2 linked regions of the Homo sapiens genome follow. The protein of the gene in region 1 interacts with the protein of each later gene in a pairwise test. Each region holds a gene or a part of one and is shown on either strand. Other genes may lie near its edges. The genes, in order: PAQR6 and RNF144A.

Region 1 (7,883 bases):
TTGTCATCATCCCAAGGACAGGTAAGTACATTGGAGAGGTAAGGAGACAGAGTATGACTAAAAGAGATTCTGGGCTTGGGATTAAGAGACCTTATTTGGGGCCCAGTTTATATGCAGTAACCTTGGTCAAGTCTTACTACCTTTGTGAACCCGTCACTTCATCTGTGAAATGGACATAATCCCTATTCTGCCTTACAAGACAGTTGGGAGAAACAGAAAATGTAAGTGAATATAATGAGAAAGCACTTGGTAAATTGCCAAGTATATTGCTGGCAGAAGGTCATGTTTTCAGAGAACTTTGGGAGCCCTCTAGGGAGCCAGGGTCCCTTCTCTGCCTGAAGAGTGTACTGAGGTGAGCTCAGATACTTCCTCCAGAGCCCCTTGTCACAGCAGTCTGAGCTTATCTGTTTTGTCTTTCCCTACCTTGCCCACCAGTGATCGATGGCCTGGATTTGCTGAAGAAGGAACACCCAGGGGCCCGGGATGGGATTCGGTACCTGGAGGCAGAGTTTAAAAAAGGAAACAGGTGAGTGTGGCCTGGCTGGACCTGTGCTGAGCCCTGGGTCTGTCTTTTGGATAACACATGCTTATGAAAGCCCCTTGCTCCCTATGGGTAAGACACATACATACCCGTCTCTACTCACAGTTAGCTCACCTCACTGCCTGGGGAGTGATACCAGAGATAATTAGAAGTCAAGGTTGTAGCTGCTGAAATAGAGGGTGACCAAAGGGATCAGGAGCCCTGTGGGGAGCACTGAGCTGCTGTCCTTCCTCTGGGGCAAGCCTGTGATCAGCACCCACTGGGGAGAAGGGAGCAGACCTCCCTCCCCCAACTTTAGACTGTGAACTCCTTTATAGGAATTTCTCCTGCTTTGGGGTTGGGACAGGTGATCAGGTTTCTCAGAGTGTGAGGGCCTCATCCAGGCTGCCCAGGGGCTTCCCACCTCCCTGCTGAGCTGAGGGAGTGGTAAGACCGAAGCCAGCCAGGGAGGGGCAGCTGGCAGCATGTGCAGATGCTCAGCCGGTACAGGCCTGCCCTTCTGGCCTTTGGGGCTGGAGGAGAACTAGGCAGAGGGTGTAGGGAATAAGGAGAAAGCTTCCCTCTCCCTGCTAGCTGGCCCACCCCCTCCTCTGCATCTGCTCTGGCTGGCCAGGAAGCTGCACAAGGTCTGATTGTTCGGACCTTGTCTCCAGAAGCCCTGACTTGAAAAGCATCTGCTGCTTCTCCCCTCCCAGCTCCTCCCCTGAGAGGAACCAAATAATTGATGTTATCAGGAGGAAAAGTGAGCTGGGCCCAGCAGCCAGGAAGCCACTTAAGAATGGCTCCAGAGCTGTGGTGGGAGAGACATGTTCCCCAGCCCCGCCTGCAAAACCAGGCCCCCAGAGCCACAACAGACTGCTTTGTGTAAGGCACCCTGCCAGTCTCCTGCTCCTGACCTCCACTCGCACATCTCCTCTGCAGGTACATTCGCTGCCAGAAAGAGGTGGGAAAGAGCTTTGAGCGGCATAAGCTGAAGAGGCAGGATGCAGATGCCTGGTAACATTTTAGCCCTCACCCCTAGAACCTCAGGCCACCTGCCTTGCTCCTCCACGAGCATTCCTAGGGAGAACGGGTAGGGCTGGATAATTCTGAGGCTCCACACGTAGCCTGCCAGGGCCCTCCTGCAGGCCTCACCTTGCGAGGAGTACGAAGTTGCCGCAGCACCTGAGCTTTTCCTCTGCAGATGGGTCAGCCTCTTTGGGCCTTGCGATGCTCAGGCTTGGTGTTTTCCCTCAATGCACCTTTGCCTGCTCCCCATATGTCTCCAGGGCCAGCTTCCAGGGCCCACTGCTGCTCACTGCCCTCCCAGCCCCCAGCTGCCCCTGTCCCCTGGAGATCCTGGTGTTTGGGCTGTGCTAATGCTGGGTCTTGGCCCATCTTCCCCTCTGCCCCCCATCCCCAGGACTCTCTATAAGATCCTAGACAGCTGCAAACAGCTGACTCTGGCCCAGGGGGCAGGTGAGGAGGATCCGAGTGGCATGGTGACCATCATCACAGGCCTTCCACTGGACAACCCCAGCGTGCTTTCAGGCCCCATGCAGGTGGGTCATGGGTGAGGTGGGGGGATGGTGTGGAATAGGGACGAGGTACCAGAGCAGACTCCATCCCCAGACCCTCCACATAGCTACCTTTTTTTCTCTTCCATCACTCCTTCCCCAGCGCCTCAACAATTTGCTCTTCAGTTCAGGAGGTCAGACCCTCTCCATCTTTCCTTCTCCCATTCCACAGGCAGCCCTGCAGGCCGCTGCCCACGCCAGTGTGGACATCAAGAATGTTCTGGACTTCTACAAGCAGTGGAAGGAAATTGGTTGATACTGACCCCCAGGCCCTGCAGTGGGGCTGACTCCAGATCTCTCCTGCCCTCCCTGGCAGCCAGGACCAGCACCTGTAGTCACCCCACCACACGCAGACTCATGCACGCACACAGGAGGGAGGCCTAGCTGCTCAGAGGCTGCAGGGAGGGCCCAGGAGCCGGCTGGGAGGGTGGGGTCCCTTTGTTGCCAAGACGTTAGGAAAGCGAGGAAAGTGCTTGGATTAGGAGAGTCTTGTGGGCCCCTGGCCAGCCTTCCTGCCTCAGCTCCCCTGCTGTCTCCAGGGGCAGGTGGTAGGCATGGGTACCTGCATTTCACTGGAATGGGTTCTTGGATCTCTGAGGGGAAGGAACAGCAAAAGAGGCCCTTCTTCCTCACCCAAGATGCAGGGTGGTTGGGGCCAGGAGTTTGGACCCTCTAGGTCTTGGGGGAAGAGCTGGGTAATACCTGGTGTCTGAGTGATTCTCTGCAGACCCTTCCCCTCCTCAAGGATCACCCATCCTCCTTTCAGCCCCCTTTATGGGGACCAGGCAGCTCTGGAGCCAGCCACAGGGGCTGTTAGAGAAGCAAGGCCTGGAGTGGCCTGCACCGAGTAGCAGGGTCAGGGTTCGTGTGCTCCTCCTCCTGCTGCAGGGGCTGCACATCCCATTGCCCCACTTCTGCTTTGTGTCTCCCTCTGTCTAGCTTCCAGGGCAGGGAGCAGGCCCCACCTAGGGCTGCAGGCAGTCTGGCCTGTGCCAGCACGGTCTCCTGTGCCCACCAGCCCCACAGGTGCTGTGCTTTGTGCTCTTGGCTGCTGTGCTGGGACAGAATGGGATGCCAGGAAGAGAAGAAAGGGGGTGCAGTCTGAGGCCACCACCCCCCTTCCTATCTAAGGGAGGGCTGAAGACAAGGGGCCGGCATTCAGTGGGCAGCAGAAAGGAGAGGCTCCTTGAAGCTGCTCAGTCAGAGGCCCCCGTCCCTCCTTTTGCCTTCCGCAGGACTGAAGACCTGAAGGGGCTGGCTTTTGGAGTGTTGAGGTGAATATCTGGGAGCAGAGATCATGAATAGCTCAGGGCAGTGAATGGCGCACCAAGAGCAGGGCTGTGTGTGGGAGGCTGCAGCCAGGATTGCCTCAGCTCCTCCCCCTCAGGCTGGGAGGATAGCACAGGCTAGGGGCTCGGGGTGGAGGGTCTCAGCTCTGCTGCCCCCACCCCAGTACTAGCCTAGCTTCCCAAGCTGTGGCTTAGAGGATAGTTGGCTTCCTGCCTCTCTCCTCTAAAATAGCAAGTCTGGGAAATCCTGGGGTGAGTGGAGTCACCCCACTCCCAGTTGCTGGCAGAGACTGAGACTAAAGCATCACTTAATAAACCCCCCAAGCCCAATCCCTGTCTCCTGGTGCCTGTCTGTACAGAAGTTTCATTGGGGGGTGGGGCACTGAAGATGGCATCCTGAAATGCATTTTGGAAAGGCTTCTTTGAAGTGGATGGAACAGAACAAGAAGCAGGCAATTTGAGTGAAGGCCCTGGAGATGGTTTGATAGGCACTGTCAAGTTCCTTGACTGTAAACTGAGGCGGTGCCTTTGCAGGGGTGATAGTGAAAATCTCTTGCCAGCAACATCGCTGCCTGGGGTTGGTTCGCTGTCACTAGCTGGGTCCTCTTCCCCAAGGGGGTGGGGAGGTGAGCCTTGAAACCAGCCTCTGGCCAGGCGTAGTGGCTCACGCCTGTAATCCCAGCACTGGGAGGCTGAGGCGGGTGGATCACAAGGTCAGATCGAGACCATCCTGGCTAACACGGTGAAACCCCATCTCTACTAAAAATACAAAAAAAAATTAGCTGGGCATGGTGGCGGGTGCCTGTAGTCCCAGCTACTCGGGAGGCTGAGGCAGGAGAATGGCGTGAACCCGGGAGGCGAAGCTTGCAGTGAGCCAATATCGCGCCACTGCACTCCAGCTTGGGTGACAGAGCGAGACTCCACCTTAAAAAAAAAAAAAAAAAAACCAGCCTCTGAGTCCTCAAGTGCCTGTCCTGCAAGGATTGGCATCTCAAATTGTATTCGGGGGGGGGGGGGGGGGGAGGGGGAGGTGGTGAGCCTGGTGAATCCCCCATGATAGAACCAACATTTACCAAAGGCAGTTTGCTCTGAGCCCTAGGCAGCACCAGGTGCTAAGAGGCAGCAAAGCATGGTGAGAGATGGCTTCTGAAATCTGTTCTGCATTTGGGGATTTGGGTTCCTCTGCCAGCCTAAGGCAGAGCTGTCCCCAACTGCTGGGAGAACCTGGAACGGGAACACTGCTCTGAGTCGCCGGGGGGACTCTACAGCACCATGGCCACATCCTGCCTTGGGCCCCTACCCTGTTCTAGCCAGTCAGCACAGGGAGTTTGGGTCGTGCTGGAGGAGCTGGCTGTGTGCAGGCGGCCGAGTGAGCTGCCTGCTAATGGGGCTGGGCCACCCCGTGCTGCTCCCTGGAGGCTGGACAAGGCTGGGATTGTTCCCTGGCTCCCCTTTGTCTCCCCACTCCCCGCCCAGGCCTGGCCCGCCTGCCTGGCCACTCTTCCTCCATCAGCCTGGCTGGCAGCAGCCTTGGACTCCGCCCGTGGAGCCCTGGGCCTGTTGACCCACCAGCTTAGGAGCACCCACCAAGCTCTGGGTAAGGAAGCTCACCTTCTGGGGCTCTTCTGGGAAAATAGAGGTAAAGCATCTTGCTCCAGCCACCCCTCCCCCATTTCCATAGCAACTGCACACACTCCACTCCAGAGATCTCCAAACCCTACTACTAAGGGAAGGCACCGTGAGGGCAGCTAGACCCCAGCGTATTCCTCACTCCTCCCCCAGATAGATGGGCAGCACTCAGGGTAGGGGAGACCCCCGACCATCCCACTTGTGGGAGCGAGCAAGGGATACCCTGGGAGGCCCTCATCCATCTTTGTTCTGCTGGGGTGCAGGGACTAGGGCCAGGTTTGCCTTTGCCCAGCAGGGTCTCCAGCACCCATCTCGGGCAGAGGCTGGGGGAGTGACTGCTGGTGCAAGCCCCAAAGTGCATGCGGCAAAAACATGGATGCAGAGCTGGTGGCAAGAAGAGGGGCTAAGTTATAGAGTTGCTGCAAAGTTTTGGCCTGGGGAGGTGGGGGGAGTGTCCTAGTCCTCCTCCTGGGGCGGCTCCGCCTGCCCAGCTGGCCCAGCCCCTCCACTTGTGCCAAGGAATGTGCCGGGAGAGGCGGGCGGGGCAGCAGAGCTGCGGCCACCCGGAGGCAGTGCACAGGTCTGGGGCTGAGGGATACCTGGGCTCAGGAGGGGCAGGGACCCCAAAATTCTCCTGGGGGCACAAGTGTAGTCCTCAGAGAAAAGCCAGGCATCCCCCTACCTCCTTGTCCCACCTGATGGCATCTGGCTTCTCCAGAGATTCGGAGTGCCAAGAGTGTTCTGTGCTCAGTTCAGGCGCTGTGGGCGAAGCACATTCTGGTGGGAAAGGGAGTGGTACTCAGGCTGTCTCTGTGCTGGCCTCCAGGAGTCAGGATTCTTCCTGAGACAAAAACTGGGGCCTGCGGGGCTGGATCACTATTTGAGGCAGCCTCCCGGCTGGGAGGACCCCGCCACTCTTTGCTGGGCTGAGGCCGCCAAGCCCCTCAGTGTGGGGACTGAATGCCCCAAGGAGAACAGGGGTTGGAGTTAAGTGGTGCAAGGGCTGGGGAAGGTGGACCAGCTTCCCCAGGCCTGAAGGAAGCAGCTCCAGGAGGGAGGGTGCCATCTGCCTCCCACACGCACAGCCCATCCTGCGGCTGAACCCAGGTGAAAGGGGCCTGTGGATGGGGGCAGTTATCTGATCCCCTACCTCCCACTCTGTCTCTAGGTCAACGTGGAGGTACCAGGCCACCATGCTCAGTCTCAAGCTGCCCCAACTTCTTCAAGTCCACCAGGTCCCCCGGGTGAGGGGCTCCACCCACTGACCCACCAACCCCCATTCCCTAGAGGACTGACTAGGGGCTGACGTTCTTCTCTTTTAGCTATTGGGGCAGCCCCTCCTGCAGGCGAACTCTTACCCTCCCATTCCAGTGTGAGACTCTTCCTCTGTTCTCTGAGGAACAAGCTTGTGGCCCTCCATCTGGAGTCCCCTTCCCCAGAGCGCCCTGTGTGCTGCGCTCCACCCCCATCCCACCCCAATCTGGCTCTTCGGTTTCCTATTTGTTTTGTGGGTTGTGGGTACTGGGACCTGTGGTAACATCAGATCAGATTTAGTTTGGCTTGGGGGCCACGTTGATCTCCAGCCCAGCCTCTTTGACCCTGCTTCCAGAGATCTCAGATGGAGGGAAAGGGTCCGGGCACAGTGACGCCCTTCCTCTCCCACCACTACCCTAGGTGTTCTGGGAAGATGGCATCATGTCTGGCTACCGCCGCCCCACCAGCTCGGCTTTGGACTGTGTCCTCAGCTCCTTCCAGATGACCAACGAGACGGTCAACATCTGGACTCACTTCCTGCCCACCTGGTGAGGGGAGGCTCCGCCCCAGGCCGCGGCCTTGAGCTCAGAGGGGGTACCCAGGCGGGCAGGGACCGTCCAGGCCCACGGGCTGCAGCGGCAGTCGCGGGGGTCCGCGGCGGCCTGAGCACGCGCCCGCCGCAGGTACTTCCTGTGGCGGCTCCTGGCGCTGGCGGGCGGCCCCGGCTTCCGTGCGGAGCCGTACCACTGGCCGCTGCTGGTCTTCCTGCTGCCCGCCTGCCTCTACCCCTTCGCGTCGTGCTGCGCGCACACCTTCAGCTCCATGTCGCCCCGCATGCGCCACATCTGCTACTTCCTCGACTACGGCGCGCTCAGCCTCTACAGTCTGGGTGAGCCGGACAGGCGCGGGAGCGCGGGGTCTGGGCGTCCCGGAGCGGGGCGAGGGGTGGGACGCGGGACATAGGGGCGCGCCCCTCAGGCCTCAGCTGCACGCCCCCACCTCACCGCAGGCTGCGCCTTCCCCTATGCCGCCTACTCCATGCCGGCCTCCTGGCTGCACGGCCACCTGCACCAGTTCTTTGTGCCTGCCGCCGCACTCAACTCCTTCCTGTGCACCGGCCTCTCCTGCTACTCCCGGTGGGTTCCCAGGCCCCTCCAGTGGGGACGGGGAAGGCGGAGGCACAGGAGAGGACACACCTCACTGCTCTCGAACAGCACTGGAGGCATCGGGACCATGTACTGAGGACTTCCTCTGTCAGACCCTTTATCCCCACATACAGATGTGGTCCTTTACACAGGAGGTCATATGCCCTAACGGTTTTCTTAGCTGCAGGCTGTGCTGATATTCCATCTTTGCCCAAGTCCTCTTGCCTTTCTCTGACCCCTACCCCAAGCACAGCGATGGTGACCGGCCTTTTCCTCCCGCCTCCCAGTTTCCTGGAGCTGGAAAGCCCTGGGCTCAGTAAGGTCCTCCGCACAGGAGCCTTCGCCTATCCATTCCTGTTCGACAACCTCCCACTCTTTTATCGGGTAAGGAGGCCTAGGGCCCCTGCCCAGACTCCTGCTTTCCTGTCCTGACCCTCAAGGTGCCCACTTCCAGCCCTGCCCCCTCAGT
Region 2 (7,512 bases), on another chromosome or scaffold:
TTATTTATTTATTTTTATTTTTTGAGATGGAGTCTCACTCTGTTGCCGAGGCTGGAGTGCAGTGGTGCCATCTCAGCTCACTGCAACCTGCGCCTCCCAGGTTCAAGCAATTCTTGTGCCTCAGTCTCCCATGTAGCTGGGACTACAGGTGCATGCCACCATGACTGGATAATTTGTATTTTTAGTAGAGACAGGGTTTCACCATGTTGCCCAGGCTGGTCTTGAACTCCTGACCGCAGGTAATCTGACCACCTCGGCCTCCCAAAGTGCTGGGAATATAGGCGTGAGCCACCGAGGCTGGCCTAATTATAGTTCTTAAAAAAGTATGCATCAATAAATTATTCTAAAACTAAAATCATAGCTTCATCATTTTGGCAAGATGCCCACGCCCTAATATGGGCAAGGAAGGAGAATGAGAAGCTAAATAGCAGCAACCTGTGCATCAGGCCTCAAAGCTCCAGAGACGTGTGGGCCTGGGAGATTGTGCCCTCCCGTCAGGGACATGGCTCTTGCAGGCACACACGGTAGGGTGTGTTTGAGAAACACTGAAGCAGAGCATACTTAGGAGAAGGCTGCCGTATGAGACCAGAACTTCCATTCTGCCAGAGAGCAAAGGGCTTGCACGTTTTCCCGCCCTGTAGATGATGTGAGTGTCAATGAAGTCTTAAGACTGGCCCCAAGCCCAACAGCCCCCCAGCCCCCACTTCTGTCTGTCCTCACTATCCTGAACACCAGGAAGGAGTCCTGATCAGGAACCCCGGAGCCAAATCTGGTGTACCCTGATTTTGGATTTCCAGCCCCCAGAACCATGAGGAATAAATGTCTGTCATTTAACCTGCCTCATCTATGATATTATGTCACAGCAGCCCAAACTGACAATGACAGTCCCCGCTTAGACAAAACCTAAGATGCTAAAACCCCTTTAAATCCCAGGCTGGATCCTGAACCTGCATGAAGTGTTTAGACCCCAGGACTATACGAGTCACAAAGGCTTCTGTCCCCATGGCGCTCATGAGTTAATGTTTTCACAAACCCAGGAGAAACACCAAACGGTGTTGCTTCACTGTTACACAGGAGTAGGCACCAAGCTCTTTAGGAAACAGCTGGTCTATTTTTCTCATTCCAAATCTAAACCTCAAAGCTAAATGCCGCAAGGTGAAGCTGAAGGCCGTACTCACGTCCAGAGACTCCAGGCAGTACCAGCAGAAGGCGTGCTTGCAGTTCTTGCACATCATCTGCGCGCAGCCTTCGTCTCGCTCGATGTAGACTTTGCACTTGGGGCAGCGCTTGATGGGCGCGTCATCTTCTTCCATTTTGAAAGCAGCACTGTGGGAGAAACGCCGTGAGGACTCTGCACAAACGGATCCCACGGGAGACCCAGGAGCACTGGCTATGCTGGAAGCATCGGCTCCACTTCACAGACTGAGTTTTCTTGGTATTAAATGAAAAAACAAAACAAAAACCAAAAAACAAAGAAACAGAAACTCCAGAAAAAAAAAATTAACCAGAACACTGTGAATCAGCCACTTTGAGTTAGGAAAAATTTTTAAAAAATTACAGCAACATCAACACATATCTAAATTTAGAGATATATGTATACAAACAAAAGAAAATACAGCGAAAGGCTTATTATAACGGAGGTATCTGAATCATAGTGTTAAGGTCAAATATTGTATCCTTATTCACAGAGCTGTCTACTTTCCAAAGGGTTGATATAAATTTTATGTACTTTGCTGTTATAAGAAAAATAAATAAATGTTGCAAATACACACACACAAACACACACTGTTTACTTGAGATAGATCCACCTGGCTCTTCTTACAGAATTGTTTTCCTCAGAAGTTGGCTAGGTCTGCAGGGTTAGCAAGAAGGGCTTTAAGCTGAGGTCAGAGCTGGGTCTGCTACAAACCAGCTGTGGAGCAACCCTCCAAGCCCTAGTTTTCTCATCAGTGTGACCATGAGAAAAGATTCCGTGTGCCAAGAGCACAGCGCAGGGTGCAGCTTTTATGAAGTGCTTGATAAAGGGTAGCAGTAGTTCAATGTTGCTAAAGAAAGATAACACAGACATTAGGTATGACTCACCCCATGCTGTTAATTTTTAAAAGATGGGTAAGAATATTCAGAAAAGCATCTGAAGGAATAAATGATAAACTGTTAAGAGGAGTTATCACTGATTATGGGGGTCCATTTGCTATATTGTTGGAACTCACTATATCAAACAAACATCAGCAGGAGAAAATGCATCCCTCCTTCTCGGGGCAGCTTTTTCAGAATTTAACACATGTATGGGTATATATTCACGGCAGTTGAGCAAATTCTGGCTTTTTGAGTGCATTCTGGCTGAAGGATCTCTCACAAGCTTCCAGTCAATATGAGCATTAAATGTAGTTTCACTTTAGTAGGAGCTGTCTGATGATTGGCAGTGAACAATCCTCCACTTGGGGTGCACATTCCAACTGAACGTGACTGTTTGGTCCATTAGTAGAAGGCAACAGAGTAAGAAATAATGAGAGAAGCAGTATGTCCTCCTAATTAGGAGCACAGAGTCTTGAGACAGACAGATCCTAGCTGTGCGATTTATGTGTTACGTGTCTCATCTGCAAACCAGATGAATAAGGCTAATAGCATCGATCTCTACAGACGGTTGTGAGGATTACAGAGGTTGCACATGTTAACATGTTAAGCACAAAATCCAGCACATAAGTACCAGGCACTCAATAAACAGTAGTTATTATTAACAACTGTTACTGAAAGATAACACAACTGTCACTAGCTCAAATGCTTCCAATTTAAAAGCAAACTGCAGACCAACCTGGTCATGCAGAATGTGATAAAGAATGAACTAAGGTTGTTGCAAGGAGCAAACGAGATAGCATATGTGCAAATGTCTCCAGAGGGATCCAGCACAGAGCCAGCTCCGAGTAAACCTTAGGCCTGGCCTCCTTCTGAGAATGACTTTGATTTTGCAAAAAGCTGGAAGTCATGAGACACCGGATCTGGTGATCAAGGTTGGGTTTTAGGTTAGATAACATTGTTTTGGTTTGAAAGCCAGGTGTGACCTTAAAGCTAAGAAACCAATTTTCTCATGTGACTCACAAGCTGATTTTGGAAGAAACGGCAGGAACAGCGTGTACAGTGTCTCCTGGGGAGACATTTCAAAATGAAAACCGTTAAAATATGAAAGTTCTGGTGTACTGTGCTATGCATAAAATTTTGCATGGAATAGACAATGGTTTTCAAATATTTCTTAGTATCTGAATTGGATTTAAAATTATTACTAACAACATTTACTGTAAACTCAAATTATAAAAGCAGAGAGGAGTTTGGACAGTTTAATCACAATCTACACGTGGCCCAGCAGCTTGAAGAGGTGCGCAGGTGATGCTAATGAGTGAAGTGGTCAGGGGCTGGATAAAAACATGGTTGAGGAGAAGATTTAACCAAAAACAACAACAACAACAAACCCTCCAATACAAAAAATAGCTTAGTGTCTTCTCAGTTATAAATGGCAGCTGACAGGCAGCCTCAGTTCCAGGGGACAAGGAGTAGTGAGGACTGTGGGGCTTTGGCCCAGGAGGCGCCTCCAGCAAGAGCTGGGGCTCTGCTACGCTGGCTGCCAGCATGGGGAGGCAGCCTCGGAGAGGCTTAGGATTCGGATTTCCCAGAGAAGCCAGAAATTCCAGTTTTTATGTGACATCTTCTGATTTAAAAATTTCCACAAAATGAGATTTCTGAATTTTGATTTAGATCATCTTTGGACAATAATTTAAATGAGACTAGAATGTCACAGATAAAGAAAACTAAGTCATCAGGCTCCAAACACTCACCAGCCTCCATCTAAAGTTTTGAAGCCCCTAAGATGCCAAGTACACGTGAAGTATAAGTACAAGTGGTTCGTGCTTGCAGCTGCCTGCCTGATGCAGGCTGCTCAGAAAGGCCCAGGCCCTGTGTGTCAGGAGCTCATCCTGATGGCAGAATCGGCCTTGTCAACGCAAGAACTCAAATCCAATATGTCCAGGGTTGTAATCAATGCAGAGAATCTCAGGGGGAACACAGAGGGTGGAGGCCCCAACCCTGTCCTCGGAACCATGAAGCTTGACAAAGGGATGTGATCCCCACCTGAAGTGTGGCAGGAGCCCCCAGGGAAAGGAGGAGGGCAGAGCAGGGCACTCCAGACACGGGAAGAGAGGTTCGCCCGGAAGGAGACCAGGGGTGTGTGGCAGGGACCCTGAGAGGGTCGGGGGCTAGAACAGGGCACAGGGGTCACACGGAAAGGAACAGGAGCTGGGGACGGTGGAATGGGAAAAGGGGCGCACAGGGAGCAGCTGGTGAGCACACCCTGGGGAGGGTGGTGGGTAGAGTGGCAGCTCCTCTATGAGGATCCTGGACTCAACAGGAGCAGGGGCAAGTGTCCAGCAGAACCACGTGACCTTGTAGATTTTGTAGGAGAAAAAGACCTGGATATGATGAATTTCCTATGCATCAACCTACGAAATGTCAAAGTACAGAGCGTGGTGCGGCAGCATTCTCCTGGGCAAACAGCCCGACTATGGCTGCAGGGGAGGCCGCCACCAGGGAGTGTCTCCCCATCCCCCTCCAGACAGTATTTATGACCAGTGCACCCTACTCCTGTTCTTGTTTCTGTACCCCCATTTCAGATCACCTTCAACACAGTGAAGTCTTGCAGAAACTTCAGGTACTGCAGGACTTGCAACCTTTAAAAGTAACAAACCACGCATGCATTTGTCATTCCAGCCAAGCCGTGTTAAGTGTGGTTCTCACACACCTTTCTATTTCCAGGGCCTCACACAGTGCCTGGTACATAGTCAGTTCTCAAAAATAAATAGACATACAAATAATGACAGGCTTGAGTGAGGCTCAAGAGGTACAGTGTGTGTTAGGGTTGACTGAGCCACAGCCACTTACACTGTAACAGCACTTTTAGGAAGAAAGCATGCCTGCTTCTCCTGGCCCACAGCCATGCCTTTGGTGGCAGCTTGTGTACAAAGGGTACCTGGTCTCCCCGGGGAGGAAGGTGATCGGCATGGTCTCCGGGCAGCCCTGGCCAGGGTGCCAGCTGGCTTTGCAGGTGGAGCAGAATTCCATACGGCAGGCTTTGCACTGCACTGGCTGGGGGGTCTGCAGCCCCACGTCCTGGAGCTGACACACAGCTTGGCAGGTGGACGCCGGGCACCAAGTCCGACAGGGATCAAACAGCACCTCTGGTACAGTGAGACAAAATGGACAAATCAAACTTAAGCCAGAGGGTCATGTGGGCTTCAGAGGAAGGAGCCCCTCAGTGCACGGACAGGGAGGAACATGTCCAGGTAATACAGCCAGCACCACCAGCCCCAACCGAAGCACCGCCCAAGCCACCCTTCCACCTCCACCTCCGCTGTAGCTCTTCCCAACTTCTCCCTTCATGCAACAGACCTCCAGACACCCAGACATCCCTCAGGAATGCTGCTCCTGCCCCTGGAATGCCCTTGGAGCCCTGGGTCAGCCCTGCTTGCCTCTGACACTCAGCTCACAGCTCAAAGGCCTCCACATCCTGGAAAGCTTGGCCCACCTGCCTGTCGGGTTTCTCTGAGCAATGCACATGGCGCTAGCTCATCTGCCTCCCCTAGGGGACAGTTTTCTGAAGCTGGACCCCTGATGGCCCCATGTTGGGCATACAGCCAGCACCAGGAAAATGCTGCTAGAAGACCGAGAGGAAGAGGGAAGGAAGATGGCTGGATTGTTCTTCTAACCAAATGGTTCACCTGCCTAAGATGGCCTCCCCTTCTCAAATCCAAGCCACGAGTTAACTACGGAGTGAAACCAATCCTTCAAGGGCCAGATTTTCTCTCCAAATCACAGCACACATTTCTAAGAAGCCCAATTTAATGGAATTAGCCACAAAGTTTATTTCTAAAAACAAGACACTTTGACACATCTATTTCTTCACATCCTTGTCCAAAAATTGCATTTCTTTAAATTATTGGCTGCCCTTTGTAGGAAGACTGGTTGTTCATTTCATCTTCCCTCTTGTCCAGCATGATGCCGAATTCTCGATCAGTGGCCACCCCAGGGAGCAGCAAGGCTCTGCCAGAAAGCTCTCCCAGGCCAGTGCAATGTGGGCTATTTCCAAAGGCGTTCTGGTAGGCCACTGGTTTCTAAGTTTTCAGCGGGGCTCTTCTTGGGAAGTAGTCAGGACAACTGAGTTTCAGAGACGACTTGAAAGGCGATGACAAGTCCTTGCAAATGTCTGGGCCCTGTGACTGGCCGCCGGGCAGCTCCCGCTCGCCTGTGTCACACATGGGATTCCTACTCACTGGAATCCACAACATGCTGGCGCCGCACGTGGACCGGGACTTCACCTACACGCATTGCCACGGGACCAGCAGGAAGTTAATGACAAATCACCCACTGGGTGTCCTGACGGTGCACACGCATACGTATGTGTAAGGCTCTGTGTGTTTACCATGTTCCCCAAATACATGGGGAAGCCAGATTCAGCTCTCCAGAAACCATCTTGTGTAGGGTCTAGCTTTGAAATGATCTAGTCATCTAATCCAGGGGCTGGCAAACTTCCTCTGCAGAGGGTCGGATAGTCATCATCTAAGTCTGAGGACCATGTTGTTTCTGGGTTTCTGTCGCAGCTACTGGGCTTTGCTGTTGCATAAAAGCAGACACAGTGATCTGGAAATGAATGTTCTAGCAAAACTTGACAGCAGCAGGCCACCGGCGGGACTGGATTTGGCCCACTAGCCATGGCTGGCTGACCCTTGATCTCATCTGGCTGCCCTCTGCCTTTTTTTTTTTAAGCATGAATTAATCAACAGCACAAAACTGTCAGAATGTTAGGGGTGGCAGAAGATTAAGAAGAACTTGATAATAACAAGGAACGCTGGAGGTCAGGAACAGGTGCTCTACTCTAATTATCTTCATTATAATAATCTAAAATCCCCAGGATGCTCCTCATACTGAATGAATGGACAAAATTAGCTCTTCTCTTATTTGTTGATAGTTTCCACATTTGCTTTTCTAAGAATGTTCCTAGCTGTCAGGTCTGACAAAATGGCTTTTTGAGAAAACGCAGTTGTTGTCTGTGGGTCACATGTGTGGGGGCAGATGCCTGGGGCTCCCCTGAGCTGACAGTCACAGCAAAGCAAGGAGGGGGTGCACATGCCAGCCTGGGGCACTGAGCGCCACGCTGAGCAGTGAGGAGGAAACGCCAAAGGCTAAAGGCAGCTGGCCTGGGTCATGCTCCCATCCCGTCCCCGCGATGCCTCCGACAACTCTCTGCCTGCCCTCTGTGAGTGCTGTGGGGTGAGCCCAGCTTTGTCCCTGATGAGATAGGAGGCCCATGTCTGCCCAGCCCTGCGGGAGGGTGCAAGTGCTGTGTGCACTAAACAACACGCTGCGCGGGAAGAGAAATCCTCACCCGCTCTTTGCTCTCCTCCCGATATAGCTCTGAGGCTAGATCCAGAAGGGCAGCGCTGCCTGCTAGGGACCCTTCCGTCTCACTGC

What was found.
Region 2: the proteins of PAQR6 (region 1) and RNF144A interact in binary tests that used the Homo sapiens proteins (3 or more experiments, as listed by UniProt).

The regions. Positions count from the first base shown.
Region 1 is NC_000001.11:156,245,057-156,252,939, reverse strand, and holds the start of PAQR6 (membrane progestin receptor delta), read left to right. Parts: upstream 1-4,883; 5' UTR 4,884-4,983; exon of another isoform or gene 4,984-5,025; intron 5,026-5,307; exon of another isoform or gene 5,308-5,430; intron 5,431-6,183; 5' UTR 6,184-6,208; coding exon 6,209-6,259; intron 6,260-6,689; coding exon 6,690-6,817; exon of another isoform or gene 6,818-6,952; coding exon 6,953-7,158; intron 7,159-7,278; coding exon 7,279-7,405; intron 7,406-7,701; coding exon 7,702-7,798; intron 7,799-7,883. Other genes in the region: nonsense-mediated mRNA decay factor SMG5, read left to right, coding at 1-21, 436-526, 1,463-1,537, 1,944-2,082, 2,270-2,353. UniProt on the Homo sapiens protein: Plasma membrane progesterone (P4) receptor coupled to G proteins. Seems to act through a G(s) mediated pathway. Involved in neurosteroid inhibition of apoptosis. May be involved in regulating rapid P4 signaling in the nervous system.
Region 2 is NC_000002.12:7,018,183-7,025,694, reverse strand, and holds part of RNF144A (E3 ubiquitin-protein ligase RNF144A), read right to left. Parts: intron 5,223-7,512; coding exon 5,015-5,222; intron 1,327-5,014; coding exon 1,179-1,326; intron 1-1,178. UniProt on the Homo sapiens protein: E3 ubiquitin-protein ligase which accepts ubiquitin from E2 ubiquitin-conjugating enzymes UBE2L3 and UBE2L6 in the form of a thioester and then directly transfers the ubiquitin to targeted substrates.